Linked DNA regions of Homo sapiens. The protein of the gene in region 4 purifies or fractionates together with the protein of the main gene of each other region. This does not show direct contact. Each region holds a gene or a part of one and is shown on either strand. Other genes may lie near its edges. The genes, in order: SDC4, GPC6, SDC2, GPR183, OSBPL8, TGFBR3 and ARHGAP29.

Evidence for each region.
Region 1: the proteins of GPR183 (region 4) and SDC4 purify together in Homo sapiens (affinity purification with mass spectrometry; 2 studies listed by BioGRID and IntAct, with this or other methods). This does not show direct contact.
Region 2: the proteins of GPR183 (region 4) and GPC6 purify together in Homo sapiens (affinity purification with mass spectrometry; 3 studies listed by BioGRID and IntAct, with this or other methods). This does not show direct contact.
Region 3: the proteins of GPR183 (region 4) and SDC2 purify together in Homo sapiens (affinity purification with mass spectrometry; 3 studies listed by BioGRID and IntAct, with this or other methods). This does not show direct contact.
Region 5: the proteins of GPR183 (region 4) and OSBPL8 purify together in Homo sapiens (affinity purification with mass spectrometry; 3 studies listed by BioGRID and IntAct, with this or other methods). This does not show direct contact.
Region 6: the proteins of GPR183 (region 4) and TGFBR3 purify together in Homo sapiens (affinity purification with mass spectrometry; 3 studies listed by BioGRID and IntAct, with this or other methods). This does not show direct contact.
Region 7: the proteins of GPR183 (region 4) and ARHGAP29 purify together in Homo sapiens (affinity purification with mass spectrometry; 3 studies listed by BioGRID and IntAct, with this or other methods). This does not show direct contact.

Annotation. Positions count from the first base shown.
Region 1 is NC_000020.11:45,341,346-45,345,476, reverse strand, and holds part of SDC4 (syndecan-4 precursor), read left to right. Parts: intron 1-4,131. UniProt on the Homo sapiens protein: Cell surface proteoglycan which regulates exosome biogenesis in concert with SDCBP and PDCD6IP.
Region 2 is NC_000013.11:93,225,027-93,229,907, reverse strand, and holds the start of GPC6 (glypican-6 precursor), read right to left. Parts: upstream 3,102-4,881; 5' UTR 2,452-3,101; coding exon 2,292-2,451; intron 1-2,291. UniProt on the Homo sapiens protein: Cell surface proteoglycan that bears heparan sulfate. Putative cell surface coreceptor for growth factors, extracellular matrix proteins, proteases and anti-proteases. Enhances migration and invasion of cancer cells through WNT5A signaling.
Region 3 is NC_000008.11:96,604,821-96,608,951, reverse strand, and holds part of SDC2 (syndecan-2 precursor), read right to left. Parts: intron 618-4,131; coding exon 482-617; intron 1-481. UniProt on the Homo sapiens protein: Cell surface proteoglycan which regulates dendritic arbor morphogenesis.
Region 4 is NC_000013.11:99,293,565-99,297,556, forward strand, and holds the end of GPR183 (G-protein coupled receptor 183), read right to left. Parts: intron 2,600-3,992; 5' UTR 2,582-2,599; coding exon 1,496-2,581; 3' UTR 975-1,495; downstream 1-974. UniProt on the Homo sapiens protein: G-protein coupled receptor expressed in lymphocytes that acts as a chemotactic receptor for B-cells, T-cells, splenic dendritic cells, monocytes/macrophages and astrocytes.
Region 5 is NC_000012.12:76,370,969-76,375,099, reverse strand, and holds part of OSBPL8 (oxysterol-binding protein-related protein 8), read left to right. Parts: intron 1-1,666; coding exon 1,667-1,756; intron 1,757-3,515; coding exon 3,516-3,652; intron 3,653-4,131. UniProt on the Homo sapiens protein: Lipid transporter involved in lipid countertransport between the endoplasmic reticulum and the plasma membrane: specifically exchanges phosphatidylserine with phosphatidylinositol 4-phosphate (PI4P), delivering phosphatidylserine to the plasma membrane in exchange for PI4P, which is degraded by the SAC1/SACM1L phosphatase in the endoplasmic reticulum.
Region 6 is NC_000001.11:91,879,499-91,883,629, forward strand, and holds part of TGFBR3 (transforming growth factor beta receptor type 3 isoform a precursor), read right to left. Parts: intron 1-4,131. UniProt on the Homo sapiens protein: Cell surface receptor that regulates diverse cellular processes including cell proliferation, differentiation, migration, and apoptosis.
Region 7 is NC_000001.11:94,234,337-94,239,096, reverse strand, and holds the start of ARHGAP29 (rho GTPase-activating protein 29), read left to right. Parts: upstream 1-1,512; 5' UTR 1,513-1,669; coding exon of another isoform or gene 1,670-1,682; intron 1,683-4,760. UniProt on the Homo sapiens protein: GTPase activator for the Rho-type GTPases by converting them to an inactive GDP-bound state. Has strong activity toward RHOA, and weaker activity toward RAC1 and CDC42. May act as a specific effector of RAP2A to regulate Rho.

The DNA.
Region 1 (4,131 bases), on a different chromosome or scaffold from region 4:
CCCACGAAAATATTTGGGCCATGATTTGGAGGGTTCCATGAGGTTGGGGGGAGGCCTCTTTCCCCGCTGGGCTGACATCCCCCACCTTAAAATGAAAGGTTTGAACAGGGTAGCCTCCAGAGTCCTTTCCATCTCTCAATTTGATTAATAACTTAAGTACCTACTATTCAAAAGAGGTCTCTCTCTTGAAGGAATTAACTTGAGGGAATTAACATACTCCACCAAATGCTGAATCCCTCCCTCTCTCCCCCCGCACACTGAGGGCAGGAACTCTGCTCTATTTGTTTTTGTGAAATACCTGTCCCCTAGTTTGTACTCAGGAAATGCTTGTATGAATGAATAAATTCGTGCATGTAACTTTATTCTAAATGGTTCATTACTGTTATTTATTGCTAGTATGAGTATCTCCCAGTACTGCGAGGTACCATTTTCTCTATTTTTACAGGAAATTGATGCTCGGAACAATGCAGTGGCTTCCTAAGGTCAGAACCAGGTCCTTCTGATAGGGCAAGGTGTCTGGTTTGAGTGTCCTCAGAATATTCCAGATGAGGAAATTTGCTGGGTTTGAAGGTAGATACCTTAGGTCCTACTTCTGCGTTGCTGGGTGACCTTGAGCAAACATGCCCTGTCTCTGGGTCTCAGTGTCCCCAACTCTAAAATAAGGAGGCTGGACCATTGCCTTCCAAGGGTCCTTCCTGCCCAGAGAGCCCATTGATGAGGGGAGGGGCCCTTTGCTGGCCTCCTTGGTGAAGAGTCTAAACAAATCCCAGTCTCAGAAGAGAAGTTGGGGTGGCGGGGGGACATTCAGCTCCTGCCATCCCCAGCTCCTAGAAACAGAGGGCTTTTCCAAGGACTTGGAGTGCTGAGCCTGCCTGAATGAGGAGCTGGGGAAGCCAGGCTGGGCTCCCAGCCCCATCTCCCTGTTGGGAGAAGTTGGCTCCTAGCTGTCCTTCAACCTCCCGGACTGGACAGGCGAGTGTGATTTCCAAATGAATGCTTAAAATTGGGGTAAGGGGCTGGACCGAGCGCTGTGAGTCACTGCATGCTAGCGTAGCCTGCCTGAGTCACCCATTTCCTTTCAAACTCTTGGCTAATAGGACAGCTCTGTGGTGGGGGTGTTGGAATGAGCTCAGAGTTTTACCTTGTCCTTTGGGAGTCACTGTTTCAGTGTCCGGGGCTCGAGGGGACATACAGGACATGTTTGTACTAGGTCCCGCACTTTCACAGCCCCTTGCCTGCATGTAGACTTTGACATTGTACATTGTGCAGCCAGTCCTCAAAATTGGGCTTTAGACCTCTGCAGAGCAGGTAGTACTTTTTTCCTCTTTAAGGCAAAACTGAGGCTGCAACTGGCCTGCATTTTTTCAGAGAGCAAAAGCTGGTACTGTTCAGGTTTGGTGTGACCCCAGGATTTTCTGATGTTTGTGAGGACTCCTCTTTGCTTCCTGGGGCTGGCCAGAGGGCATTGAAACATTGGCTTGGTGTTACACAGACTTAACTCCAGACGTGCGAAGTCCACCTCTTACTGGCTACATGAATTCAGTCATGCTACTCCACCTCTGAGCCCCAGCCTCCTGGTCTGTTAAGAAGATCATGATACCGGTGTGGCGAAGCTTAAAGGAGACGACAGGGCTGTAAATAAAGGCACCTAGTACCATGCCTGGTAGGGAGGAGGTGTTACTTAGTGACAGTTCCCTTCCTTGCCCAGGCCACCTTCATGCCAGGGGGTCCTATCTCTGAAGATTCTGAGCCCAGGTCTCCTGGAAAGCTTTCTCCATCCCCCTTATCCCCCTTATCTACCCCCACAGCTGGGAGGTGGGAAGGGAGAAATCTAGGGTGGGGCTTTTGGAGTCCAAATCTCCTATTTGTTTATCTTAGAAGTGGGCTGTTTGCTAATTATCGAATGGGTTTATGTTTAAACAAGAACCAGTTCTGGGCAGCCCCACCTCTCCTGCTGGGATTTGCTGGAGCCTCATGCTGAACAGTTTGCAGCCTGGAGGGAGAGGGGGCAGGGGGTTTGCCAAGGGTATCAGACCACTCTGGACACTGTCCAGGACCTGGGGTCACCCTCCTGTGCTGGAGGGGCAGAGTTTCTACCCTTAAGGAGGCTGAGTGATTGCAAATAGCACTTTGAGGGGTGGGGTGTTGGTGGACAGAAAAGGTACAGTGTTCTGAAAAGCCAGTTTCTCGTATGTTTTCACTGCATGGTGCCCTAGAGAGGGAGGAGAGAGAACACATATGTCAACAGTTGGGGTCTCATTTAACCTTAGAAGAATAAGCCTGACTTCTTGGGCTTGTTTGTCATTAACTAACACAGTGGTGACCTTGGGCACATTCTTGCATCTCACTGGGGCCTCTCTGGTCCCATCTGCTGAAGGCTGGGTGACTGAAAAAGAGGGTACAGAAAACTCCAGCCCCCGTCCTAGCTCTGCTGCTCACCCAGGGACACACACAGTTAATACGTCACTTTGTTGATGTGAACTCCAGTGTCCTCTATAAAACACCTGTGGCACTCAAAGGTCATCATCGCTGTTTGGCAAACTTGTAAAGTTCTGGCTTTATTAGCACCTAGACGAGGGTTCTTAACCCGGCCAGAGTTTGGCTTTGGGGAGGTGGTGTCTGTGCATATGTTGAAAATGTAAACTAAGAGTTACAGTTATTGGGGTTTAGACCTTTTTATCCTTTTCAGGGGGCTGCAGTACTCCCCAAAAGGTCACTCTGATCTCAGCAGTTCTTTCTGGCTTTGACCTTTCTACAGCCATCCTTCCTCCCTCCCCCACTTCCCAGCCTTGTTCTTGCCTCCTGCTTCCCCCAACCCCCACCTTCAGCCCAGACCTTCCTATTCAGCGGCCCCCACCCCTTCAGGCTGCATCTCACCCCTCCCCCTGTCCTCCAGGCCCGGGAGCTCGGCTGCTCCAGTTTTCTCTGGCACAGTAGAAGAGGCTGCTGGTCAGGTGACACCTGGGGTAATGGAAAGGGGAGGCAGGGAGAGGCTGGTATGTGTGGAAACAGTGACTTGGTGAAGCCCAGCAGTCAGTGGCCAGGCCTGCGGGGACTGGCGGTGTCACTCTAGCCTCTGGGCGTGGGGGCAGATGTGGCACATGGCTGGCCCGGCTACCCAGAGTGGGGATACTCCTTGCCTTGGAGAAGCCCTGCCGGAGCCGTCTGTGGGACAGACTGACCTGGTCTGGAGGATGGCTTCCTTGGGGGTCGGTGAGGGAGGCTGGGAAGAGGCAGGAAGCCAGCACCCAGGGCTGATCTAATCAGCTGAGATAAGGCTGCAGCGTGGGCTCTCTACTCTGCTCTGAGAACACAGGAGGTTTGTTTACATCCCGAGAGCCTCCCTAGCCCTCGGATCCAGCAGGGATTTCGGATCTGCTGCCTAGATTACAAGCTCCAACTTCAATGCACCTCTGTCTCTGAGGCCCTGAGGGAGCCAGCCCCCTCCTGGCTGTCTCCACCGGTAATCGGAGCAATGCCCAGCTTGGTTACTGGGCTGGGACAGAGGGAGGCTTGTCTCTTTGAGACCTGTCTTTTACAGATTGGAAAACTGAGGCTCAGAGAAGGGAATTGTCCACGATCATCCAGGGAGTTAGTAACAAGGGTGCTGGGTCAGCTCCTGGCAGGGAGACATCCAGAGGCTCCTGAACCCTTCCCCCATTTCTAGCTGGCACCCTAGGATCCTGGAGTTCTTGCTGTGGGAATGGGCTGCCCTGAGGCTTGGTGAAAAGCTGGTTGCAGGCAGTGCCAGGCCTGGCTCTCTCCTGAGTGATTGTGTTCAGAGTAACCCGACCTTGAAGGCGACATTTGAACCCTCACTCCACCCCCACCCCCAGACCTGGTTTAACCATTCAGGCACCAGAGCACCAGACCATGGATTGGTGTGTAGTTTCTTTTTACCTTCTAGATTTTTATTTATTTATTTTGTCCCTGGGGACCCAGGTCCCCAAGTAGAATTTCAGGTGTTTCTGGTCACTGTCATTTGCACCTTCGGGGAAAATAAAAATGGTCTTTACCTCTGTCTGCTTAGGACAGGTGGTCAAAGCTGTGTGACCTTGGGCAGGTCTCTGACTATCTCTGTATCTTTTTTTCACAGTCTGAAGGGACCTGATTGGTTGTTGAAAAGTCTCT
Region 2 (4,881 bases), 6.1 Mb from region 4:
TTTTGAAAAAACAAGTATATCCTTAAAAAACACAATTATCTTTCAATTCATTATTTTCCTATTAAATGTGCCTCTGACCCTGTGGTGACCTGCATCTTGATTATGTCTACCAGCATCAAAGGACACAAGGCTTAAAGCAAAGTTAACAGTATGCCCTTACTCATGGAAAGTAGGTGAGTTTAAAAAAAAAAAAGTGCACACATTTTAGAAATTCATAGCTAATAAGCAAACACTGTAATTGTAAAAAGGTGGGGAGGAAACCAAAAACAAAAACAAAAACCTCTTTAGTTAAATATCCACCGAAGAATTTACATGAACCCCTGGGAATGTTCTCAACAAACATTCATGGTGACTACAGAAATTGTTTTACACTGAAAATCTTCACTTTGATATTAAAGAGATGTGCCTGATGCTGAGGATGAACTCTAGTCTCCTGAGAGTCCCATTATCCTCTAAAGAATACCGAAGCAATTTAAAAATACCTAACTATTTTCTTCTTTGAGACATCTTATCTGAAATCATGTTGGGAAATATCTTGTGTGCTTAAAAGATACCGTTTGAAAAAGCCCAGATTAAAGGAGAAAAAGTTCCTAGAAGAAGTGATCCATACTATAAACCTTTTAAAAAGTTGAATTCCCTGAGATTTGGGGAGGGAAAAAAAAAAGCGAAGCTGATCCTTATCAATTAATTAAAAAGAATGAAATAACAGTAGACAAAGGAGAAGGAGAGTTAAGAAACTTAAGGAGCTGTGGGGACAGTCGCTCTCTATTCATTGATTAACAAATTAAGGAGTTCTGGAAAAGAAGGAAGAAGTAACAAGGATAGAAAAGTAGGCTTATAATTCACCACAGATTCTAACTTAGACTCAGCAAAGGGAATGTCTGGCTCTGAACTGAAAAAGCTCCTTCTATATAATGAGCGTGGTAATTTGCGCCTCTTTTTTTCCCCCTTTGCCAATGCTCAAATTTATTTAAATGTGTTCATTTCAGTGTAAGTAAAAACCCTCACTTCTACAGCTTGAAAATCATAAGAAAATAGTAATTCCTCAACGTATCGAAACTGTGATGTTCTAAGATATCTGCAAAATGCTTTTCATCCATCCACCAGTTATTTGGCAAAAAGCAGACAGAGGCTGGTGGAAATTCAGCGTTTTGACTTGACGATCTGAGGTCACTAAGGACTTCAGCTGCCCGGTTTGAGCAGCCCGCGCCCTCGCAGCATCTCCTGGCCTCCCTCGGCCTCTCTCAGTTCTGTTCTTTAGCAGCCAAAGGATTATCTCTCCCCGACACGTTTCATTCACAGAGCCCCAGAGAAGCTCGGATTCGGTTGGAGCTAAGAGCCGGAAAACAAGCACCCAGACTGCCGCGCAAGTTGTCGGAGACCAAGTGCTACACACACTGGCGCCGAGAGAAAGGGTGGGCGCTCTCAAGCTCTTGGTGGAGCAATGCCAGTGGCCGGGCATGCGGGGGACACGGGGCCCCCGAACCCGGACCCGAATCCCCAGCTGAGCCACCCGCTAAAGTTGGCTGTTCGCTGGCAGACGAGGCCGGCTCCAGACCGGGTGGCAGGGTGTCCCCGGGCCCTGAGTGGCCAACAGCAACTGGGGAAGCACTGAGGAACCCTAACGGGAAAGCCCGCCCCACATCTGAAACAGGCAGCCCGTGAAGTCCCCAAACCAGCCTTGAAACGCCGGCGTCCAGAGGCCAGGTCCCCGGCGAGGGTCCCTCCCAGCCTTGCCCGCCCCCGGCCCGAGCGCCGGGCGCTCTGTCGCCCGAAGGACGGATAGGGGAGAGAGGGGCTGGGGGAGCCCTCCGCGTCTCTCCACCGCCCCTGCCGGCGCAAGGGCGGGAGTGGAGAAGGCGCCACTCAGACTGTGGCGCTGGGCAAACTGCGGTCGCAGTTCTTCCAAGTTTGCCCGAACCAGAACGCGGAGTGAGCGCCCGGCTCGGCTCTCCGTCTGCGCCTTGCAGCCGCCCCGGAGTGACCCGGGCTCCCTGGCCAGCCGGGCCTGAGCCATCAACTAAGGGGTAGAAGGGCGCGAGAGCAGCGGGAGGCGGGAGCCAGGGTGCTCCCGCGTGTGCACACAATGAGGCGGCGGAGACGCACACCTTCCCCCGCCGAAGAAGCCGCAGGAGCATCCGCCGCCCAACACGGAGACGCGGAGTCCCATAGCGGTGGCAGAAAGTGAGCACCAACTCAGCAACAGGGGGAAGGAAGGGGACGCCGGGCGGCCAGTGGGACGTGCGGCAGCCGAGGGCTGCAGCCTGCCCCTGCAGCGCGCCCGCGCTTACCTGCGATCTCCTGGTAGGGGATGTCCGCCAGGCTGAATCCCTTGGCACCGTACGCCTGGCGGACCTCTCCGCAGCTCCGAGCCTTCACATCCGCCCCGGCGGGGAGGGAGAGCAGCAGCCCCAAGAGGGGAAGAATCACAGCCCCGATCCAAGAAGGCATGGTGCAACATACAAATCCAGCTCGGTAAACCCCACGGCCGGTGCGCTCTTCACCTTGCCCCTCAAGCCGAAAGCCCGCCAGAGGCAGCGGCGCGCTCCTCGCCGCTGCCCAGCGTCACCCCCTTCTGCCAGCCGAGGGGACGAGCAGCGCAGCCCTCTGGACTGCGCTCAGCAAACTTTTATAAGCCAGATGGACGATGGCAAGCCAACAAGGGCTGGCTGGGAAGGCTGCTGCCTTGCTCCTCTAGCCCCCAGATGGAAACGGTGCAATCAAAACGAGGAAGAGAAGGAAAAGAAGTGTTTAAAAAACCACCATGGGGGTTCAGAGCTGCAATCCGAGTTCCGAGCCGCAGAATCCTGGAGCGCTGCGGGCTCGGCTCGCCGGAGTGTGCGGCAAAGGTGGGAGCGCGCGCCGGCTCCCCCGGGAGGGAGATGGACAAGCGAGAGCGAGTGTGTATGCGCGCGTGTGTCTGTTGGTGTGAGCTCGAGGTTCTTGGGGATGTGTGTGCGTGGAGGTATGTGTTGGGGATATACGAGATCTAGGGGAAACCTCAGCTTAACACAGGCTGTGGGAGCCTGTGAGAGTCCTCCTGAAATAGGAAGAGAGAAATCCTGGAGACAGTCACTGGAGGCAAGAGGGAAGGAGAAAGGAGGGGGGAGAAAGAAACGTGCTACACATTGCACAGCCGAAATTCACAGGCCGAGTCAAAGGCAAAACCTGGACTGGATCTCTTCCTAGTCGGTAGAAAGGGGAAAAAAAGAAAAAGAAACGTACCTATTTTCTTATTCACTTCACATCCTTTATACCGATCTGAAATGACATCAATAAACAATCTAGAAAGACAAGGTAATTTTAAGTCATTAACATGTTATTAAGCTGTATTTTTATGGAGGTAAAGGATAACGCAGTTCCAATTGTTGCTCTTAATATGTGTCCCTGACCTACTGAAACACAAAGCCAGAGTGGAAATAGTCATAGACGGGAGTTCATGGGTGGCAGAGCACAATCACGGCTCTAACTAGTTGCCTAATTTCTGTTTGACTTTGTTTTTTTCTAAAGGCACACATTACAGACTGGTAGTTCTTAATTTTTAAAGGTTTGGTTCTAGACTCAACAATTTCCCCTTTTTTTATTTCAAATATCTCATAGCCTTCGATCAGAAATCATTATGCTTAGGTTTCTAATGTGTGGAGGATCGGGAAAGCTAACAACCAGACCACAGAAGCAACAAGAAAAGGAGAGCACAAGGGTCAGAGGTGCATAAAGGGACATAATGGGGGAAGGGAGGTGATTCCTTCCCTCTCACTAGATGCCCTCACATAGTAGACTTAACATTTTCTTCCAAGTTAACATAATTCTCAAGTGGAGAATCAATCCAATTTCTTCTTCCTGTCTCCATTTACACTGATGTTCTGTGAACGGGATAAAAGTGAAAATTCAGGTTTGCCTAATTGACTTTGTTATGCTAATGGACGCACTAAAGTCAGCTGGCAGAAGTGTGTGTTGAAACCCAGAGCTCCTGAAACTACTAAGATAGTTTAATGAAAACCAAGACAAAATAATAATAATAATAGTGTTTATTCACTTACGTGGCTATGTGTCATAGGTCAGCACATTATTCACAAACTACTACAAGGTAATGCACAGTTTTGTGGAGCTCACCTATGAAGCTACACATGAAGATGTTTTCCTGATGATGATATGAATGACCAGAATGACTCATGAAGTTTAAATCTTTGAGTTTGTCATTATCATCACAACATATTAGGTACATTGTCTTCCTCTCTTTAATAAATTCCCCCTCTCCTAACCACCAAAAAGACTCTCAAGATTCAACCTCATTTAACCTTTCCAAACGCTTTAAAAATGAAGTCGACTTATTTACAGAGCCACTTTGTCTTCTTCAAACTCATAGGTCAAGACAAAACAAAACCAAAAAAAAAAAAAACAAAACAAAACAAAAAAAAAAACTCCATAGCTAAATCTTTCTGAAAACGCAACACACTTAACTTTTTTTCTCTTAAAATTTTAGCACAGTTTTTTGCTTTCACAATATTTATGCTAACTGGCAGATCTTAAATCACTGAACTTATTTTCCCTCAAGTCGGAAATCAAGATAAAATATATTCTGGTTATGTTTGTGGACAAACGGTGAGGTTGATAGGCTCAGGAATTGCAGTCAAGTTATTACTTCTGTCATATTTGACAACGTGACTTCCTTCAAACTTCTCTTTGTATCATAGTAAAGCATTATGCACTCCAGAGGAAGAGGGTAAAAACACACACTTCCTGTCCTACCACCTTATCCTGGGACTCATTGTAATTTACCCTGACTCAGTATAGCAGATAATTCATTATTTTAAATGGAGGTAAAGGAAGAATGGGTAAAAGCATAGTATATGTGGTTTTAAATTATTTGAAGATCAGCTA
Region 3 (4,131 bases), on a different chromosome or scaffold from region 4:
TGTGCCTAAATCTTGAAAGTTTTCCCCTTTAAAATATTTGCACTTCCATCCAATTAAGTTAAAATAGAAACAACGTTCTTAACACTTTGGGCAGTACTTATATGAACTGCCTTCCCCTAAAGAACTTTTCGTTCTCTTTATTTTGAAATGTAGAATGCCTGTGAGCAAGACTGATGGATCTCCACACTCTGCCATCTCTCTACATCCAGTTGTTCTGGATCAATTCAGATGTTAACTTTCCCTCTTTTAGGCTACCTCCTATCCCCTGCCCGATGGCTGGCGAAGAGGTAGGTTGAGGGAGCTGGCAGACAATAAAGACAATGTTTGCTGAGCCTCTTGCTTCTCGCTCTGGAATCAAGCACCCACAAGACTGCTTTCAGCAGAAAGATGACAGCAAGCTTTGCTGCACTTTTGAATATCACTTAGACTAACAGAGGCCTATGTAGGCACCCTCCCACCTGAGGCCCACCAGGCTACTCACCTGCTAGGACTTCTGTCCGTTTAAACAGACTGTCTGAGTGTTTCTCAGTATACACATTTGTATCCTCTTCGGCTGGGTCCATTTTCCTTTCTGAGTCAGAGAGGTGAACTTTCTCTTTATCAGTTTCTTCAGGTGACTGGTATGGGAAACAGGGAAAGATTACATTGATTTAAGGAAATGTGTTGGAAAGAAGAAATAATAGATGAGTATATTCCAAAATTTTTTTTTCCCCCAAAGAATGAGTTTAGGAAATAACTGGAATAATCACTTGTGTGATGTTTATAGCAATGGGTGAGTGTCATGATGGACCCATGTAGTTCATGGTTTGCACAACACCCATCGCATGATCAGGCAAGTCGGAGAGCTAGTGAGTTCATAATAATCCTAAGGACATGGTGAGGTTGTTTTAGTGGACATTTCCTAAGATTTCTACTTTCTCACCACTCTTCTAACTGCAGGTCACCATCTCCCTCTGACTGCTCCAACCCAACAGCACTGCCCCAATTCTCCCTGCTCCTTCACTTCTGAACTACACAGGGCACTAGGACAACAGTTCCCTTTCAGATATTCTCTCACGCCTGACTGGGCTTTTCCTGTCCCCACTCTGTGGGGAGCAATCCCCAAGCCTTACTCCTAATGCTTCCCCCTAGTTATATTACCTTCAGCAAACCCTAGACCAGGACTTCCAGGGACTTGGATTGCGCAAGTAGCTCCTCCCTGATCACATCATACTTCTTTTCTCCACCTTGATTTCCTCACCTGTCTAATGAACGACACTCACTGGGTCTCGGACACTGCACAATGCTCAAGCAGAAATCTATGGGAATACCTCTCACAGCCGCATCTCTAGTCAGCATTATTCCCAACAAGCCAGCAGCCTGCAGGACATTAACTGTTGGCTGTACCACCTTTAACTCTACTCGTCAAGTCTAAGTAGTAATTAATTCACTGCTGAATCAGATCAACCTCCTTTTCTATTCCCATTAATGGCACTGTATTTTGGGGTGTTACCAAGTTATCTATTACGGCACATTTTCTATCATATGTTTTCCATGTCACAGCACTGTCAATTTGCCTCCCATCTTGCTCTCACATTAACTTCTTCCCTTGGGTTCTCATTTCCACAGCTTCGTTCAGGTGGCCAGCACATCACAGCCCAGCTCCCATCCCGCATCGACCTCAGAACTGCAGGTGTTGGGTAGCTTCCAGTCCTCACCCAACCCACCACTTACTCCCAGTAGAAAACCCTGTGAGGTCATTTCCACCACCTCTTCATTATCAAAAATGGTTCTTAGTATCTGTGCTGTAGTTTAGCGGTCCCCAATCTTTCCATGAATGGGAGGGTGGGGGGGATGGAGGGGGATGAAACTATTCCACCTCAGACTCTCATAAGGAGCACAACAGGCACAGTTCACAATCGCGTTTGCGCTCCTAGATCCTATGGGAATGGCACGCCTCCACTGATCTGACAGGAGGCGGAGCTCAGGTGGTAATGCTCACTCACTTCCTGCTGTGCAGCCTGGTTCCTAACAGGCCACCGCTACTGGTCCGTGGCCCCAGAAGCGGGTGGGGAACTCTGCTCTAGTTCATGCAGTTCTATCCCCAGTCCAAATGTTGCACTTCTTTTACTATCTGTTTGTCCTTAATGAAGCCTTCTCTGACCTTTTACCTCACTAAACCCCCAGGATTATTTACACAGAAATTATCTCTTGCCTTTCTAACTCTCAGCACCATCACTGGCCATCTTATGTGAATCACCCAAGGTTACGCTGATCCACATCACCTGAAAGGCATTAAAAAAAATACAGTCCTACTACTAGAGGTTCCATTTCAATTGGTCTGACTTCAGGTCACCATCTCCCTCTGACTGCTCCAACCCAACAGCACTGCCCCAGTTCTCCTTACTCCTTCACTTCTGAGCTATACAGGGCACTATGTAGCTGGCACTGACTTTTACTGCTATTTAAGTTCTCCAGACAATTCCATAGTTTAAGAACCAGTGGATTAGAGAAGTCCCATTCAAAGGAGTTGTTCATTCTCTAACAGTCTGAAGTTCTTGTCGGCCAGCATCACTGATGAAAACACTGTCAACTTCATTGAGGTTTAAAGGCTAAAGGTGGCTGGGTAGGGAGCCCAAGGTGAGAGGATCATTCGAGACCAACCTGGGCAACATACTGAGACCTTGTCTCTACAAAAAAATTTTTAAAATTAGCCAGGCATGGTGCTGTGTACCTGTGGAGGATCTCTTGATCCCAGGAGTTGGAGGCTGCGGTGAGCTATAATTGTGCCACTGCATTCTAGCCTGGGTAACAGAGTGAGACCCTGTCTCAAAAAAAATACTGCAGACAATAATCCTTCTCAGCTCTACTACTCTTCCTAAGTTCCTGAGAGCTTCCTACCATCTTCATTAGGACTCCACAGAGTCTAACATACCATGGCTCAGCAAAGCAAATGATTGCTTTCTGAAGGCTAGAGTTCATCCAAAATGGCGGCCTGCTAGTTAAGTCTAGAGGCTTAAAGAGTGTAAGAAGAAAAGACCTCACACCTTCTTGGGCTGTGCAAGTAGCTCCTGTGGGACCCTGACCACATCATACTTCTTTTCTGCACCTTAAGGCCACCCTCATTGCTAGGAAGGACCATAAGCTAGACCAGGTGGATCCATTTGTACTCTAGGGTATGTAAGATCAATAGGTCCCTGTCTCAGTGAGCAGAACGCTACACTTCTACTGAAGGTGGTATGTAATAAAGTATAATAAAGAGTAACTGTCATTCCCAAATTGCAAGAAACCCTGTACTACCTAAACTTCAACCTGCCATGACTTACAAAAAGCAGAGGCCATAGAGAAATTTCATTTCACTGGTGCACAATATGCACTGAAAATGTCACCGTCCTTTCTATTACTATGAGAGAAGGAAATACGACAGGCCTTCCCAGGCCTTCAGGTACCAAAGTAAAGCAGAAGAGAGCAGCTCATTGGCAGTATTTTTGCTGAGATTTTTCTATTCTTCTCATGAAAAGCCCATCATTAATTGGCTGCCTTGTGGAAAGACAGACAACAGGTCAGAGAATGGATTATCTGGGTTCTAGTCTAGAGACCTTTTCACTGCTCATTAGTACTGCTTTACTATTACAAGTTAGAAAAGGGAAGAGAAATCTCAAATAGGTGAATACTCAGGTTTGTGACTAGGGAGAGAGGTAAACAAGTTCTGGTGAGAAATGAAATGGACCTAAGTAGTTACTGTAATATGAGAGACTGAGTTTAATTCATCCATATCCATATCATCTTTGTCCCATTATTATTACAAATCATATGGTTTCACCATGTGATTGAGTCCCTAAAGTCATTTAAGAGAGTTGATCTTTTCAGTTTCCTCTGACTCAGCCTCTGATCCGGCAGGCTGAACAAAGCGTGCAATCCAGGGATCTGAGAGTGTGGGAACTGAAGGACTCCACAGAACTGGAGCCGCCCTGCAGCTGGAGGTGCACAAGCCTCAAGCGGCTCTGGGTGGAAAATTCATTTTTTAAGTCAAAATGTTTTATCGTATGGAAGCAAAGGCTTGACTAAGAAGATACCATTTGGTAATATGGAACTAATCTGAAATACCTTCACTCTTGTATGAATGTATGTGCAAAATGAATCCGCAAAAAG
Region 4 (3,992 bases):
GTGGAGTGAAGGAAAGGCAGTAAGATTTGGGCTTTCATCCGTGTTGTCTCACCTGTCTGCATAAGATGTTACAAAGACCAGTGCCTATTTTTGACAATGGCTTTAAAATCAGGTGGCTCTTTGTGAAATAAATGTAATGGAAATCTGAATATACTAGTAAATGGTGTTGAATCAACCATTAAGATTAATTTTCATACAGAGTAAAAGTTGAAAATGGGTAAGATGAGAACTTTAAATAAAATATTTTCAGGATATAAAGTCCAATAAAAATTTAAAGTGTAACAGAGTGAGACCCCCTTTCTGAAAAAAATTTTTAAAGTACAACTCAGAATTAACATTTTCTTTATCTACCATTATAAAAATTGGTGTCATTGCCAACAGAGAATACTGCATTGGGGTAGTTTTGGGGATAAAACAAATTTGAACAGGCAGACCAGTTGACTACCTGGAAAGGTCATGCTACTCATACTAAGGTACTCATTTCAGCAAGTATATAATATTGTAAAGAATCCTAAGATGCTTAATTTTGTAAGTTTGCATTTTACTCGGATCGTATTTAGCAAGCAGCAGCTATATTTTTCACTGCTCATCATGCACCACCCTTCTCCTACTTGATAACTCAAACCATTGAAATACAGATGTAGAGTACTAACAGCTTGGGGGAAGAAAAGAGAAATGATCCCCTAGTGATCCCAAGAAAACCAATCATATAGGCATGTCTTTTATTCTCAAGATGAATTTAGCAAGCAGACCCTCCTCCCAATGGGCACCTCCATATAAAGTCTTTTTCATATTGCTAAGCAGAGGCCCTAAAAGACTGTGCTGGCAGCTCCAGGAAAAGCTCAGTGCTTTCATTGCCTCAGTCATCATCATCATCATTTATAATGTTGCAGTTCAAAGTCTATTGCCAATTATCTTTTCCCTGACACTCCCACTGATAGTTGACAGGGAGCATTGAGGGACAGACTCATAACTTTGCAGCATCCTGCTCTTTATTCCAAAAGAGTTCCTTAACAAAGTTTTATGACCCAGAACGAAACAAAACAAAACATTGGTGTTATTGAGGGAATTAAATCTAACATTGAGAGAAATTTGGATTTAAGAAATATGTTATTTAAAAAGTATGTTACAGTATTAACATCTGGCAATATATAATCTATTCAGTCCTTTCTAGCCATTTGTTGGCAAGAAATAATAATTAAATTTTTTATTAAAACAAAACTTTTTACATTGGGAGTTATTAAGAGCGCCTCCTTTTGGTGTATTCGTTTACAAATAAAAATGAAATATTTATTTGCATTTTTATTGTGCTTTATGTTGTTTGCTTTATGTTGTTCTCTTGGGCTTACTTCCGAGTTGGAGATGGGAAAGTGCCCAATGAAAGAAATATAAAAGAATACTAATTGGAAGCTGAACAATTATTTTGCTTTATAAGGGAAGTCCTGCAAAGTTTGTCATACAGTTTACGTCACTATAAACCAAAATACAATCCATTTCACTTTCCATTTGAAGACTTGGAATGTATCATCATCTGCGTTTCTGTCATTTCACGTGAATTTTCTTCAGGGGCTGACTTCACAGCACTAGAAATCGATACACTGACTTGCCGTTTCAGCATCCTCATAACCTTTCTCTTATACCCTTTACATGCAAAGAAGTAGATAAAAGGGTCCATGCAGCAATTGAAGTTCATCAGGCATACTGTAAAGTGCAGAGAAATCTGGAACGAATGTCTTTGGCTACATTCCAGGAAATTAGAGAAACGAAGCTTCTTAATCATATGTTGAATAATTGCAACATGGTAAGGTGTGAAACAGAGAACAAACACAACAATAATAAGAATAATTGTGTTGAGAGCCTTTTTGTTTACACCAGATTTCTCAGTGAGTGGGTTTTGTTTGGCAGTTCTGAAGAGTTTGCAGCAGATCTGAGAATAGCAGATGAGAATGATTATAAGTGGAAGTACATATCCTATGAAACATGCCCCAAGCAGAATCCAGGGAAGAGATTTAGTTTCTTCAAAGTTTGGATACTCCATGCATGTAATCCTTTCAGCCTCCTGCTTTGACATAGGGTTGATGAGGAGTGGGAGTGTCTGAGCAAATACTAGAATCCAGACAAATATGCACACGCCTTTTGCATGTTCAATCCTTTTTATCTTGTTGTAGCGTAGAGGGTGCACCACAGCAATGAAGCGGTCAATACTCAGGCAGGTCATAAAGTTCACACCTGCATATGTGTTGATGTAAAACACTAGCGCAGTTATCCTACACAAGGCATCTCCGATTCTCCAGTCAAAGCCCATTGCATAGTAGGCTATTCGTGTAGGCAAAGCGGTGGTAAAAAGTATATCAGAAATCACCAAATTTGTTGAATAGAGGGTGGTAGAGTTGATTTTTTTCCTGTTTTGAACAATGACGACCAAGGCTAGTAAGTTTCCCACGAGCCCAATGATGAAGACGAGGCTGTAATGCAGAGGCATTACTATCCTGGCCGTGCTGTGATGTGCATAGAGGTCACAGTCATTTCCCTGAGGAGTTGCAGAGGGCGGAGTAAAATTGTTTGCCATTTGTATATCCATTGGTGGTGGTCCAGGTGTCTAGAAAAAAACCAAGAAGGATCATATAAGTAAAAGCATATGTATTCAGTTTGATTACTCATTAGTTTTAAAAAAGTTTAAATAATGTATCAAAGCAATCCAAACTGTCTTTTATATATCTAAGTTTTAAAATTTCATGACATGCAATTTTTAACAGTTTATAATTATAATATGGTTACATATATGATAACAGGAAGAACAGAATAAAATTTGTGTTTTTACTCTCACAATTTGCTGACTTTGGCAAAGCTCTGGCAAAGGAAACAGAACCATTTAAATAGGGCAAACGCACTTTTGTGACAGAAGGGAATGCACTAAATTTTTAGGCAGAAATTCCCCTTCCCTTTTTTGAATCATTGTCTGGTTAAGTAAAGCACCCCACATTTCAGACAGGCATTAAGCTTTGCTTTTAAATTTAATTTCAGTTGGATTTTTTTTTAACCAAATGCATATCACTGCCAGGAAATGAAATCAGTCACCACATTTATGTAGTGAAATATGAACTTACCACAGTGATCTGATTTGTGTTAACCTAAAAGTCTGAGAAATAGGCTTAGTCCATGTTAGGAACTGAAAGTTAGATTTTCTTTTTAAAAAGAAGAAGACGACGACCGCAACAACCATGACTAAAATGACAAAAAAAGAAGAAAGATAAAGAAAATGAGAGAGAAAAAGACTTAAGCTACTTCAAGGGGAAATTATTAAATTTTAAAACTCTATCAATCTGCAAGTACTCCATGGATCCATGCAATCTATACTTCTACCTTTGCACATAGTAGCAAGCATCACACTTTATATTTTGTTTCTTGCTTTATTCACCAAACATCTTCATGTCAGTGCAATGTATATATTTGTCGTGTATATTTTATATAAACATTTGATAGATATTCTACAGTCTTCCAATGTGTCAATGCATAATTTGCTTAGCTACTCCCTTGATGAACTTTTGGATTCTTTCCAATTCTTTTCTTGTTATAAATAATGTTAAAGCAGAAATTTTAAGTACTAAATTGAAAAATGGAAAACTCCTACAATAAAGTTCTGTAGATGAGGGTAAACTTTGATTAAAGCAGGAAGAACAGAGCAATAAATCCTGTGTGATTATTTTTAAAAGAAAAATAATTCCTCTGATAGAACTGTGTGTACATAAATCTCACCTGGAAGTCACCAAAATTAAGGGGCACTTTCAGCATATCTAGTGATGTTGCTACTGTATATTTAAAGAACTATACAGTATTTCCTTAAAGACTATCTCTACCCTGATCAAAAGCACTGTCTGCAAATCTGCTTCTCTCCCTGCTGTATTAAATGACTTGGATCTCAGCTAACTTCATTCTAACAACCTTAAAACTGAGATGTTCATAGACACTGAGGGTTAGCAGAGGATTGTGGT
Region 5 (4,131 bases), on a different chromosome or scaffold from region 4:
GGTAGCCTAAGATAGCAGCCTTGGAAAATTCAAATTAACACAAAAGACATTTTTTGTTTTTCATCTTAATTAATAAAACTGTGGGTATTATATAGAAGATGAGATTTAAGAAGTGATTGGATAGAAATTTCTTAGTAAATTAAAGGATTGTTTTTACCAAATACCAGAAGATATGTGTCATCTTGCAGTCTAGCTGTGTAAACCAAGGCACAGTTGTATTAGTCACTATTTCTGTGTAATAAGTTACTCTAAAACTCACAGACTTAATAACTATGTGCTGTTCCTCATGAGTTCTGTGAGTCAAAAATTTGGACAGGGTATACTGGGGATAGCTTATCTCTGCTTCATAATGTCTGGGGTCTCAGAAAGACTTTGTAGGCCATGGGTGACTCAATAGTTAGGGACTGTAATCACCTGAAGGCTTATCACTTACATATCTGATACCTGGTCTAGGGTGACCGAAGGACTAGAACTGCTAATCTGAGCACCTGTATACATGGCCTTTCCATGTGACTTGATTTCCTGACAGCATGACAGCCTCAAAGTAGACTTCTTACTTGGCAGTTGAGGGTTTCAAAGTGCAAGTGCCCCAGTGAGCAAGACAGAAACTGCATTTCCTTTCCATGACCTAGCCTGAGAAGCCAAATTATATCACTTCCACCATCTTCTATTATTTGGAGAATTGTAAGACCACCCAAATTCAAGGAGAAGAAATATAGACCCCACTTCTCATTGGGAGAGTGGCAAGGTCTCCTTGAGGAAGAGTATGTGGGCTGAAGGGGAGAGGGTACGTATTGTCAAGGCCATCTTTGGAAATTTTTGTCTGCCTCAAAATGAAAGGGAAATTTGAGAACTTAATGTGAATTAATTGTTCTTGAACAATAGTATATTCAGATAAAAATATTTCTGTAAACTAGTAATATTTATTACTAAATTGCTGCTATGTTGATATCCAGCTGATAAGCAATTTTGCTCTGATAAAAAAGACCTCTTAAGTATTATTTGATGCAATGTCTTTTATTTTATTTTTCTTTCACCTTGGCAAAATTTTCCTTGTATGGTGATGATAATGTTTGAAGATCATGATGAATGAGTTCTTAAGTATATATGATGCCTTTAAGTATGACATTGGAGCATCAAAATTTTGTCTCTAAGGAGAGATGTTAGTAAGGCATTATAGTAACTCAGTGTATTCCTTCTAATTTTATTTTTTGGAGGCTTTTTTTGGCTATATATTTTACTTTTGTTTGTTTGTTTTTTAAGGAAGGGGTGTTATTTATTTCAATGGATCGTTAATTCCATTAGGTTTATTGAGTTGTTATTGCTTAAGATAACGTCACATTGATAGGGCACAGTCTTGACAGGGGAGGACACAGGATTTGAGCATACATGGAACATGAGTCAGTTATATCAGGGTGATCTTTCTTAATATGTTTATTTTGATTTAATATAGTCTGCTTGTTTTATCCTATTTTTTTCATAGCAGCAATTCAGATTTCTTATTAAACATTTCTAACTAAAATTTGAGTCAGTATTTTTTTACTGCTTGTGCATTCAATAGTACTGTAACTATACAAGCAATTTTTGTTGGGTTTTTTGTTTTGGTTTTACATTATATGTAAATATAAGTGAAAAGTAAAATGTTTAACATTTTCTCGTTTAAAAGCCATTCCTAGGGAGTAGTGACTGTGTTAATCAAATATCAGGGAAACTTAAACTGGGAAAAGAAGTCCTAGCTACTTTGGAAGGTCATTGGGTAAGTATTTTGTATATGAGCTTTACAAAAAGAATTTTATTCTGTGGGAAAAAAAAAATCACATTTAAAATTTAAAACTTATTCCGTTGCTGAAAACATCACTATTTAACATAAGCTTCATCTTAATAGCAGATATTTTGGTGGTGTTCTGTTATCAACAGTAGTTAATTTTGTGTAATATTTTATTTCCAAAACTTAAAATCAGTAGAAATAGCTAACACTTATATATGACTTACTGCATTATTTAAGAATGTTACTCATATTAACTGATTTAATATTTATAACATATAACGCTATGAGGTGAGTATATAGGTGCCATGCCCATTTTATTATTGTTTATTATTGTCCCCATTTTACAGAAGAGGACACTGAGGCACAGAGAGTTCACATAATTTGCTCAAAGTAGGTAGTGGAACAAGAATTAAAGCCCAGGAACCCTGGCCCCAGGACTGTGCTTTTATGCACAGCACTCTACTCACATAGAAGAAAGAGGCATAGTTCCAATTAGAGTTATATTCCTTTCAGTGGAACATGGAAAGGATATAGTGGTGTGTGAGAGCAATGGCTTTTATTTACTTCTCTGCTAACCTAAATTCATATTTATGTAATTTTGTTAAGAGACGCTTAAATGAATAAAAAGAATCATGGTACTGCATGGATATACCATACTATGAGCACTGAGTATATGCTCCTTTCTGCATGCAGTAAGCAGAAAATGTTGAGAAATATGAGAAAGTGAAGTTAGGGACTTTGTTAAGTGGCCACATACACTCTGAAAATTTTTTTTAATTGCCTTAAATCTGAGAGTCTTCTGGAAAAAAGATAAAGCAGCAGTCATTTTTAAAAAATGAAATTTCTGTCTGGGTGGGGTGGCTCACACCTATAATTCCAGCACTTTGGGAAGCTCAGGAGTTTGAGATCAGCCTGGGTGACATAACAAGACCTCTTCTCTACTAAACATAAAAATAAAAAAATTAGATGGGCATGATGGCACATGCCTGTCCCAGCTACTCAGGAAGCTAAGGCAGGAAGATTGCTTGAGCCTGGGAGGTGGAAGCTGCAGTGAGCCATGATTGTGCTACTGCCCTCCAGCCTGGGTGAGAAAGCAAGACCCTGTCTCAGACAGATAGATAAGATAGAGATGAGAGTGAGAGATGACAGAGAGAGAGAGAAGGAGAAGGATGGTTAAACAGGTAGATAAATTAGATAGGTAAAATAGATTAGATAGATAAGGTAGATAGCACCGCTGCACTCCAGCCTACACAAGAGAGCAAGACCGTCCATGTCTTAGATAGAAAGATTATTCGATAGAGATAGACCTCAAATTTTTAATGCTAGTAAAGGCTCTTTCAGAGGGATGTGTGTGTGTGTATGTTTGAGTATATTGAATCCATGGATAGTCAACAGCATCTCATTGTAGCTGCAACAAATACTATGCTCTACTTGGACAGTTTGGAGATGGTTATTGAGGCTTTGCATGTAATGTTTGAAATTTATTAAGTAAAACTTATGAAATTTCACAAACTGGATATTCAACCAAATTCTTTTTAATTAACTAGTATTACGTAGTCAATCTTAATGTTTTTATAAAAATGATAAGAAACTTGGAGTTTTTGGAAAAGTGCTAGTTATATTTGTTTTAAAAATGCTTTTAACTGGAGGATTAACCAGAAGAAATTATCACCGTCATATTACTATACTATATAATTGCCTTCTAAGTATAATTCTTTACATTAATTTTGAATTTTTTTAAATATAGGATAGTGAAGTTTTTATTACTGATAAAAAGACTGATAATTCAGAGGTTTTCTGGAATCCAACACCTGACATTAAGCAATGGAGATTAATAAGGCACACTGTAAAATTTGAAGAACAGGGAGATTTTGAATCAGAGAAGTAAGTATACTGTTTTACAGCTAACTTCATGAGGATCAGAGAGTAGTTTTTCAATTCCTTAATGATATGGTCATTTTGTCACCTTCTGTCATATCTTAATTCAGCAAAATAGTTTATCATTTGTGGAAGTGACAGTATTCTGTTTTTGTGTATATGAATGTCAAATATAATATAAATCGTCTTGCTTTTCTGTAGCTCAAAACTACTCATTTTTTTCTTTCTCAATTGTTCCAGCACCTTAAAAAAAAAGAAAGAAAGAACGTTTTTGTTTAAATAAGATTACAGGACTAATTAATGACTCTTAGTTTCTACCTGGCAACAGTTTTCTAACCTGATTTAAGCATTAGAACTCTAGGTAAAGGGAGTGGTGCAGAATCTACTTCTGTTCCATTCTCTGATACAAAAGTAAAGTTACTGGATGGACTGGCTTCTATAGGATTTATTAGTTGGGTAATAACTAAGGCTATCATTTCTGTTCT
Region 6 (4,131 bases), on a different chromosome or scaffold from region 4:
TCCATTTTAAATATGGTCTCTATCCCTCATAAGCAGTTGTCAGCCTATTAAGTCTTCATCTTTGGCCTGAAAAACTGAAGAATAAAAAATGAAGAATAAGTTCCAAATGACAGTAGCCTCATGCAGAATTTATATCAATGTTGTTTCAAAAACACATTTTGGTTGAGAGAGCAAGACATCAAAATCATTATTCAAGTGGGGAGGAAGAATGCTTGGAAATTTGTGCTGATTCTTAAGCAAGGACTTTGCAAGCAGAGAAAATAAAGCTCAATGTCAGTTAACAAACAAATGTGCTATTTCAAAAGATATAAAATAAGAAATCTAGAAATTTTATATTCCTAGATTTATTTATTATATTTCTATATTTCCTGGACAGAGCCCAGGAAATGAACCCAGATCCTTCTTGTAAGGCCCTTCCAAGCTGTGTTGATTTATTTCAGCTTGACTAGACACTGAACAAATTAGCAACAGCTTGTGTTTTATGACATGCTGCAAAGAAACAATGCTATCATTCCAAGTGTTACTCTGAAGATGCAGAACCAGAGAAGTTACTGCTATGGCTCTTGGTACACTTAATTTTCTTCCTACAGAAATGCCCTCACTCAATCTGCTGAAGGCTCACTATTATGTGTTTAAGGTTAGCTTTTCATATAACCTAGATTCACTCTTAAATTCCAAATTGCTTATATTCCTAGTGGCAATACAAGACTGCTTTTACATTAAAGGCCCCTAAAAACATTTATCTAACTCAAGTTATGCAAATTTCAAAAAAGTTAACATTTTTTAAATTTACAATTGTTTTAAATAAGTTTAAAAATATGGCCGGGCGCGATGGCTCACACCTGTAATCCCAGCACGTTGGGAGGCCAAGACGGCGGATCACGAGGTCAGGAGATTGAGACCATCCTAGCTAACACGGTGAAACCCTGTCTCTACTAAAAATACAAAAATTAGCTGGGCGTGGTGGCGGGCGCCTGTAGTCTCAGCTACTCGGGAGACTGAGGCAAGAGAATGGCGTGAACCAGGGAGGCGGAGCTTGCAGTGAGCCGAGATCGCGCCACTGCACTCCACCCTGGGTGACAGAGCGAGACTCCGTCCCAAAAAAAATAAAAATAAAAATAAAAATATAAGAAAAATGCTCCAGTAGACTGATGGAAATGGCAATAAAATCACTTTTAAGTAACTGTTAAGACTGAAAAAGAAGACTGTCCTTTAGTAGCTAATAAATCTGACAGCCAGGAGCAGTGGCTCATGCCTGTAATCCCAACAATTTGAGAAGATGAGGCAGGAGGATCACTTGAGCCCAGGAGTTCGAGACCAGCCGAGGCAACATAGTAAGACTCTGTCTCAAAATATATACATATTATATATTATACAATATATAGTTATAGATTATATATATGTGAGATTTTACATATATTTACATATTTTATATGAATAAGTATATAAATAAAAATAAAAAATAAATCTGACAATTACAATTTTTATCCAACAGCAATGAAAGCACCACAAAAAGATGTTTCAAAATGAACTATCAAGAAGGGAGGTAATTCAAAATGACCACAGAGCAGAATCATCCAGGCAAAATATTACAGCAAAGTTATTACTTACACAGTCACAGTCTAAACTCTAACTGTTCTGTCTGTTAAGCTTAAAATGTAAAGTCAGGACCTTTCACAGATTTTTGAAGCCAGGAAATTGGTCTTCACTTATATACTAAAGAAGTCAGCAGTGATCACCTTCTTAAAACTCAAAGGACAGTTGAGTTCCCTGGGCTCTTAGGCTCAGATTCTGCCCTCAGAAAAACAAGCACTCACCTGACTTTTACAAGTCACAACCAAGTTTGCATGCAAGAGAGAAAAATTAATTCTTTTGAGTCTTAAAAACAATGGAACAACACTTTCCTTCAAGCCAACGAAAGGCTTTCTGTAAGAAAGCCCTAAGCAACCTGAAGGCATTTTGGCCCCCAGTCATCAGAGCACTGAATAAGGACAATTAATTTGCCAAGCTCCAAGACCAGAAACCATAGCCTAGTAGGGAGTAGGAGGTTATAAGTGTTTGTTGAATTACTCGAGTAAACTAGAGCAAAGCATAGAAGACTAAATGAGATCCTAAATAAATGCCACTCTGTAGTATAAGCGCAATGCTAAGATTTAAAAAGAAGGGACTCAACTAATTTTGAAAGTTATTTTAAAATAGGATCCATGGGACCCTAACGTAGTAAATGAAATAAAGGTAAATCAATACTACATAATATGGGGCCGGGCACAGTCGCTCACGCCTATAATCCCAGCACTTTGGGAGGCCGAGGCGGGTGGATCATGAGGTCAGGAGATCAAGACCATCGGGGCTAACACAGTGAAGCCCCGTCTCTACGAAAAATATAAAAAATTAGTCGGGCGTGGTGGCATGCACCTGTGGTCCCCGCTACTCGGGAGGCTGAGGCAGGAGAATCTCTTGAACCTGGGAGGCGGAGGTTGCAGTGAGCCAAGATCACTCCACTGCACTCCAGCCTGGACGACAGAGCGAAACTTTGTCTCAAAAATAAATAAATAAATAAATAATAAAAAAATACTACATAATACGCAAGAAACAAGAAAGGAAACTGGCCTACAAAACTACAGACAAAAATTGAAAACCTTTTTTTTTTTTTTTTTTGAGACAGAACCTCGCTGTCTGCCAGGCTGGCGTGCAGTGGCACGATCTCAGCTCACTGAAACCTCCACCTCCTGGGCTCAAGGGATCCTCCCACCTCAGCCTCTGGAGTAGCTGTGATTACAGGTGTGCACCACCACGCTCAGCAAATTGTTGTATTTTCTGTAGAGATCAGGTTTCGCCATGTTGGCCAGGCTGGTCTCGAACTCCTGACCTCAAGTGATCCACCTGCCTCGGCCTCCCAACATGCTGGGATTACAGGCGTGAGCCACCACACCCAGCCAAAAACTTTTTTTAAAAGTCAAGTTTGGCCAGGCACCGTGGCTCACGCCTGTAATCCCAGCACTTTGGGAGGCTGAGGTAGGCGGATCACAAGGTCAGGAGATCGAGACCTTCCTGGCTAACACGGTGAAACCCCGTCTCTACTAAAAATACAAAAAAATTAGCCGGGCATGGTGGCGAGTGCCTGTAGTTACAGCTGCTGGGGAGGCTGAGGCAGGAGAATGGCGTGAACCTGGGAGGTGGAGCTTGCAGTGAGCTGAGATTGCACCACTGCACTCCCGCCCGGGCGACAGAGCGAGAGACTCCATCTCAAAAAATAAATAAATAAATAGATAAATGTCAAGTGTGATTTTTTCAAGCATATTCTTATTGTTTATGTTTACAAGTATGAGTATTCATAGACACATCACACTTATACTAGTATCAAATATGATACATCTGAACTACTACTATACTTGAATATTAACGTAAGCCTCTGAGGAATTCACAGTAATAGAACTGCTGTTATTTAGGATTACTGATCCCCTATTGTCTTGCACTTAGAAGATGTTAATGAAAGATGATGACAGGATTGTGAACACACCAACCTCCCTGAGAACAAATTCATTATATTCAGTTTTCTACAAAACACAAATGAGGATCATTACAAAAGGATTCACAACAAATTCCTCTGGATTTCCATTTCTCCCAGGTAAGTTGAAATATTATTCAAACCACACAAAATTAGTTTACATACAAACTTCACTTTTTAAAGAGATGGGGGTCTCACTATGTTACCCAGGCTGGTCTCGAACTCCTTGGCCAAGTGATCCTCCTACCTCAGCCTCCCAAAGTGTTGGAATTACAGGTGTGAGCCACTGTGCCTGGCCTACACACCACTTAAGGAAACAAATTGAAAAAAAACTATATGTGTGTTTATCTATCTGTCCAGCCACCATGGAGTTCTTGACATATATTCAACATACAGGCCCTGTCCTCAAGGTCATTCTTAATCAGTTCAAATTAAATCTAGTCCTCCATTATAAACTCCAAAAGCAACTTAGTTATTTTGCTAGATATTTTGCCCTCCCCTTTCAAACTATATGTTTAATACTCTAAAAACGGGTTTATGCGCCTTATAGATATCAACAGTGTGTTATGCTCCCCCTATTGACTAATATTCAAAATAACAATGAACTCCCCACGGGTTGCCTT
Region 7 (4,760 bases), on a different chromosome or scaffold from region 4:
TTTGAGGTTTCCTATTTGTGGCAGGACCTTGTTACTATTATTTTGGGGATTTGAGGGGAAAATCTGTGTAAGTTGAGTCCAAAAAATCCAGTATGGTGCCAAAGTAACCAAGGAGCTGAGTTTTCTTATTTATCTTTTCTAAGTAGCACCTGAGGAGCCAAATTTGTTGTATTTTCTTAGCATTGTTTTTCCTGTAAGGGTTCAAAGATATGTCTATGTAAGATGTCCCTCTTCTCTTTCTTTGTCAATGAGTTTTTCTCTTGCCCCGCTACCCTACTTTTGGTTCTGTCATGCTCACTTACTTTTCTGTTTGTTAAGTGGGTAGTCTCTCCTTTTATTTTTCTTCCTTATTTTCTCTTTTTGCCTTCACTTATTTCTGCCTTCCTTGGTTTTCTTCCCTTTTCCTGTGTCTGCACCTCATTTTCTTTCCAGTTTTCCTCAGCACATTCTCCTGTGTCTTTTTCTGTTTCTCCCGTGTGTGGTCATTTTTCTCGCAGACCCCAGCGCTACCCACAGTCTCCCTCCCTGTGTTTTTTCCTCTGTTTCTCTATGAGTTCTTTCTGAATGTTCCAGCACTGAGGTAAGTGCCATCGCTTGTTCCAGCGAGTGGTGTGATATAGGGACTATGTGCTTTCTAGCCCTGCTTGCTATAATTATTCCATCTTTCTCAGACTTTTTTTTTTCTTCTCATTATGAAGTGAGTTTGAAAGTGCAGCTAAGAAAGAAAGGACCGGGCACAGTGGCTCATGCTTGTAATCCCAGTACTTTGGGAGGCTGAGGCGGGTGGATCACCTGAGGTCGGGAGGTCGGGAATTCGAGACCAGCTTGGCCAACATAGCGAAACCCTGCCTCTACTAAAAATACTAAAATTAGCTTGGCGTGGTAATGGGTGCCTATAATCGCAGCTACTCAGGTGGCTGAGGTGGGAGAATCAATTGAGCCCGGGAGGCGGAGGTTGCAGTGAGCCGAGATCACGCCATTAGACTCGTCTGGGCGACAGAGCGAGACTCCGTCTCCAAAAAAAAAAAAAAAAAAAAAAAAAATACAGATAGGCCTAAGTGGAAACTATTACCCTCCATAGAGGGCAGAGGGGCAGAGTAGATGGCTGGTTTTGAGGTAGTTCATTCTTCATTCAGACGTGTGGCGCCCTTCCCCAGGCCCTAACCCCTGGAAGAGGGAGGAAAAAGGCGATCCACAGAAGTGTCTCATAAGAAATGTAGCTGCTCATCTGGCCATTAGCCGCATCTAGTCCTCAGGTGACTTTTCTCTGAGTCGCTCTGCCTGTCCCCTGCAAGCCAAAAGGGCAGCCGACGCAGCCCGTGATGCTGGGACAGCGTCCGGCCGCGCGCAACTGACGGTCGCGTTCTGCGCGCGAGCTAGTTGCCTCCCGTACCTGCCGCGGTCGCCGGCCCCGCCCCCGGGAGCGCGGGCCAATGGGCTGGGCTCCAGGGGGCGGGGCTGGCGGGCGGGCGGTGCGGCCGTGGCGGTAGCTGCAGGGGCGGTGGCGGCTGCAGTGGTGGTGGTGCCTGTGGCTGTGGCTGCGGCTGCGGCTGCGGCTGAGATTTGGCCGGGCGTCCGCAGGCCGTGGGGGATGGGGGCAGCGAGCTCCAGCCCTCGGCGGTGGCGGCGGCCGTAGGTGTGGGGCGGGCGTCCGCGTCCGGCACGCGAGATGGAGCGCCGTGGTGAGTGTGAGGAGGTGGCGCTTGCTCCGGCCGCGGCGGTCGTGGCTCCGGGCTGGGGTTGCCCGCGCGAGCGCCCGCGAATTGCCGTCCAGGGTCCGGGAGGCCCGCGGGGCGGCCCCGAGTGGAAGCGGTGGCAGGCTGCGCTAGGGACGGGTGTCCTCGAGCCAGGACTGGAGTCCACGGGAAGGGTCCGGCCGGGGCTAGGGGCGCGCCCGGCGAGGGAGGCGCGGACGAGCTGGGGAGGACGCCAGCGGTGGCCGGGAGCAGACGGTGACGATCGTAATTAAAGTTAGCACACAGCGCGTACAACGGGTCCGCCTGCTGTTCTGAAGCCTTTGCACATTTTAACTCTTTTAATGTTCAGAACACTCCATGATTGTTCGACTCGGTTCACACGGGGAAACCGAGGTTAAAAACCTGCCCAAGCACACAGACTAGTGGTTGGCAGCGTCAGGACCTAAACCCAGGCGCTTTTGCTCCGGAATCCGTGCTCCTGATCACTATGGGTCTGTGTTCTTGCCTGGATTCTATTCCCGCTCCCACCTGCCCTGACTGCAGCCCTCACTCCAGTTGGGCTCTCATTCCTGAGATATTTTAGGATTTCCGTGGTGCATTTTCTCCTGGTCTGTGTTTTTTGGGTTTCGTTGAGAGTTTTCCTCAGTCTCAGAGGTTTGTCCCAGTTCAATTGTGGACGTGTTTTGGGGTTTGACAGTTTTAATTAAAAAAAAAAATTTTTTGGGGGGCGGGTGAGCTGGAGTTGGACGTTTCAAGGTGGAACCCTCGTGACTGACGAGCCTCTTGTCTCTATGTTTATCTTTTTAAAACTTTCTCAGAGGGTATTGGCCCCAAATGTTTTCGGAGGGCAGGATATTACCTGCTAATGGCAGGAGCTGAGCTCTCCTTCCCTTCTCTCCATCTGTCTCTGTGACTGTATCTCTTGTCTATAGTTTATCTTTTGTCCGTCGTTACCACCGTCGGCTGTCCATTTTGGTTGCTCCATTCTTCCCTCTTTGTTTAAATTCTTGGATGAGGAACTTGCTCTTTGGCAAAGAGTAGTTTTGGCTGGTCAAAGGAGAGTACTGCCTGCCAGGAATGCTAGACATTCTGGAGGGGTGGGATGCTGGGCAGCTTCCTCTTTTTAAAGCGTGCTAGGTTCAAACTGTACAGAAATGAAGTGCATGTGTATTGCATGCCTTCCTTTAAAAATTGTTTGCATAGTATTGATAAAACTCTTTCTCACATGTCCCTATTCTGTTTTTGTGGAGAGTGCTTTTTAAAACCATAAAGATTTAATCATCGTTTTAGGATGAGCTCATCTAATCTTTTTAGCATCTCAAAGTAGATTCTTGCCAAATCTGAAATTGTGCTGAAATAGCAGATTTCTGAAATATCTGGCAATTTTTCCTCAAGAAGAAATGGTAGAATGGGAAATAGTAAGTATAGATGTTTGGGGGCAGTTTTACACTTCAATTAGAGAGCCTAAAATGAAACTACTGCCGTAATGTGCATTTGGCAGGGGGCATGCGTGGGGCAGCGGACATTTGATTGACACAGGCTCCTGCAGTCGTGGGGGATAGGAAGTTTGTGTCTACATTTCTAATGCACACAACACTTAGATTTACAACATACAATGGAAGTGGTTTTGCACGGTAATTTTCTACTTGCTAGAGAATTCTTTGAGAAGTGGATAATACATGTTTTTAATATTGTTGGTTTGAAGTTGAAAGAGATGCACCAGAATTAGTGTGTCAAAAATATTTTGCACAAGTCTATTTGCACAGTTCAAATTTCACTTGGAAGCTTTTTAGTAGGTTTCCACAGAGTCAGTTAAGTTTCTACAATTGTTTCCAGTCCTGTATTTCTTGCTCACAATCCACTTATGTATTGTAGTGAAGCCACATCTTGTTCAAAAACAATTTCCCACAATAAAGCACTGCTAGTAATAATGACTTTTCTTTATGGTTCATCTTTATGATGAACCAGGCACTCTGCTAAGTACTTTGCATGCGTCATTACCTAATTAAGTTGCCAGTTGCAGTCTGTTAGTAACTAAGTTTTATGTTACTTCCAACAAGAGAATATTCATTTTCGCGCATGAGAAAGTAGTGTATATGATCTTGGAAAGTGTGTATTGTTCCAGCTTCTCATTATCATAGTTCATTTATGAAAGCTTGGGTTAAGTTTGTTATTTTAAACGTTTTTTCAATTGTAATGTTTCCTTTTTTTACTCTGGAATATGAAAAGTAGTAATATATAACAAAATCAGCACATTAATCATTATAATGCTGGCTAGAGATAGGGTATAATCCTTTTTTATAAGAGGAAAAGAGTTCCTCTTCTCCTTGCCATGTGTTTGATGTTGTTGTTGCTGTGTTTGTTTTTTGCAGATTTTTTAAGTCTTGTCTAAAAATGTTCCAGCAGTTTTGAAACACTTTGAAAGTTTGGGTTACTATTTTACATGTAGTTACTTAAAGTAAATTATTTCTGCTAAAATAGGTAAATTGTTTTAATGTCTTTAATTTTTGTAACCATCTTTACCAGTGACAGTGACCAATTCTCTAATTTACCAAGTTTAAAAGCTGTCATAACTAAACAGAATGACGTTATTAAGTAAACTGCAAGAGTGATGTTTGGTTAGGCTAATAGGCATTTTGGTTAGTGATTTGTAAAAGAGCTGCCCAAAAAAGACACTTTGAATTTTTGTTTTGTTTTTGTTGATGGGAAGGAAGACTTAGATATAATAATAATGCTCAAAAATTGCCCTAGATTCATTTTAGAAATGATGTATGCATATAAGGATTAATGTTAGATAGGTTTGAAACTAGTTTAAATGTAGAAGTTAGATTCTCAGAAATAATTTGAGATTGACAAAAGGACAGTGAATAAACAAACTTTAAAAATTATAAAGTGTGGTCCCCAGTTTAATAATCAGGAGGAGCAATAATAGAAATCCAACTTTGATTTCAGTTTTATGTAATCTTCCCTCAGCTTCATATACTTTTCTTTTTGAAACATACCATTTTAGAGAGTTTTTTAAAAATTTATATTTTCACTTCAAAACATTGCAACAACCCAGAG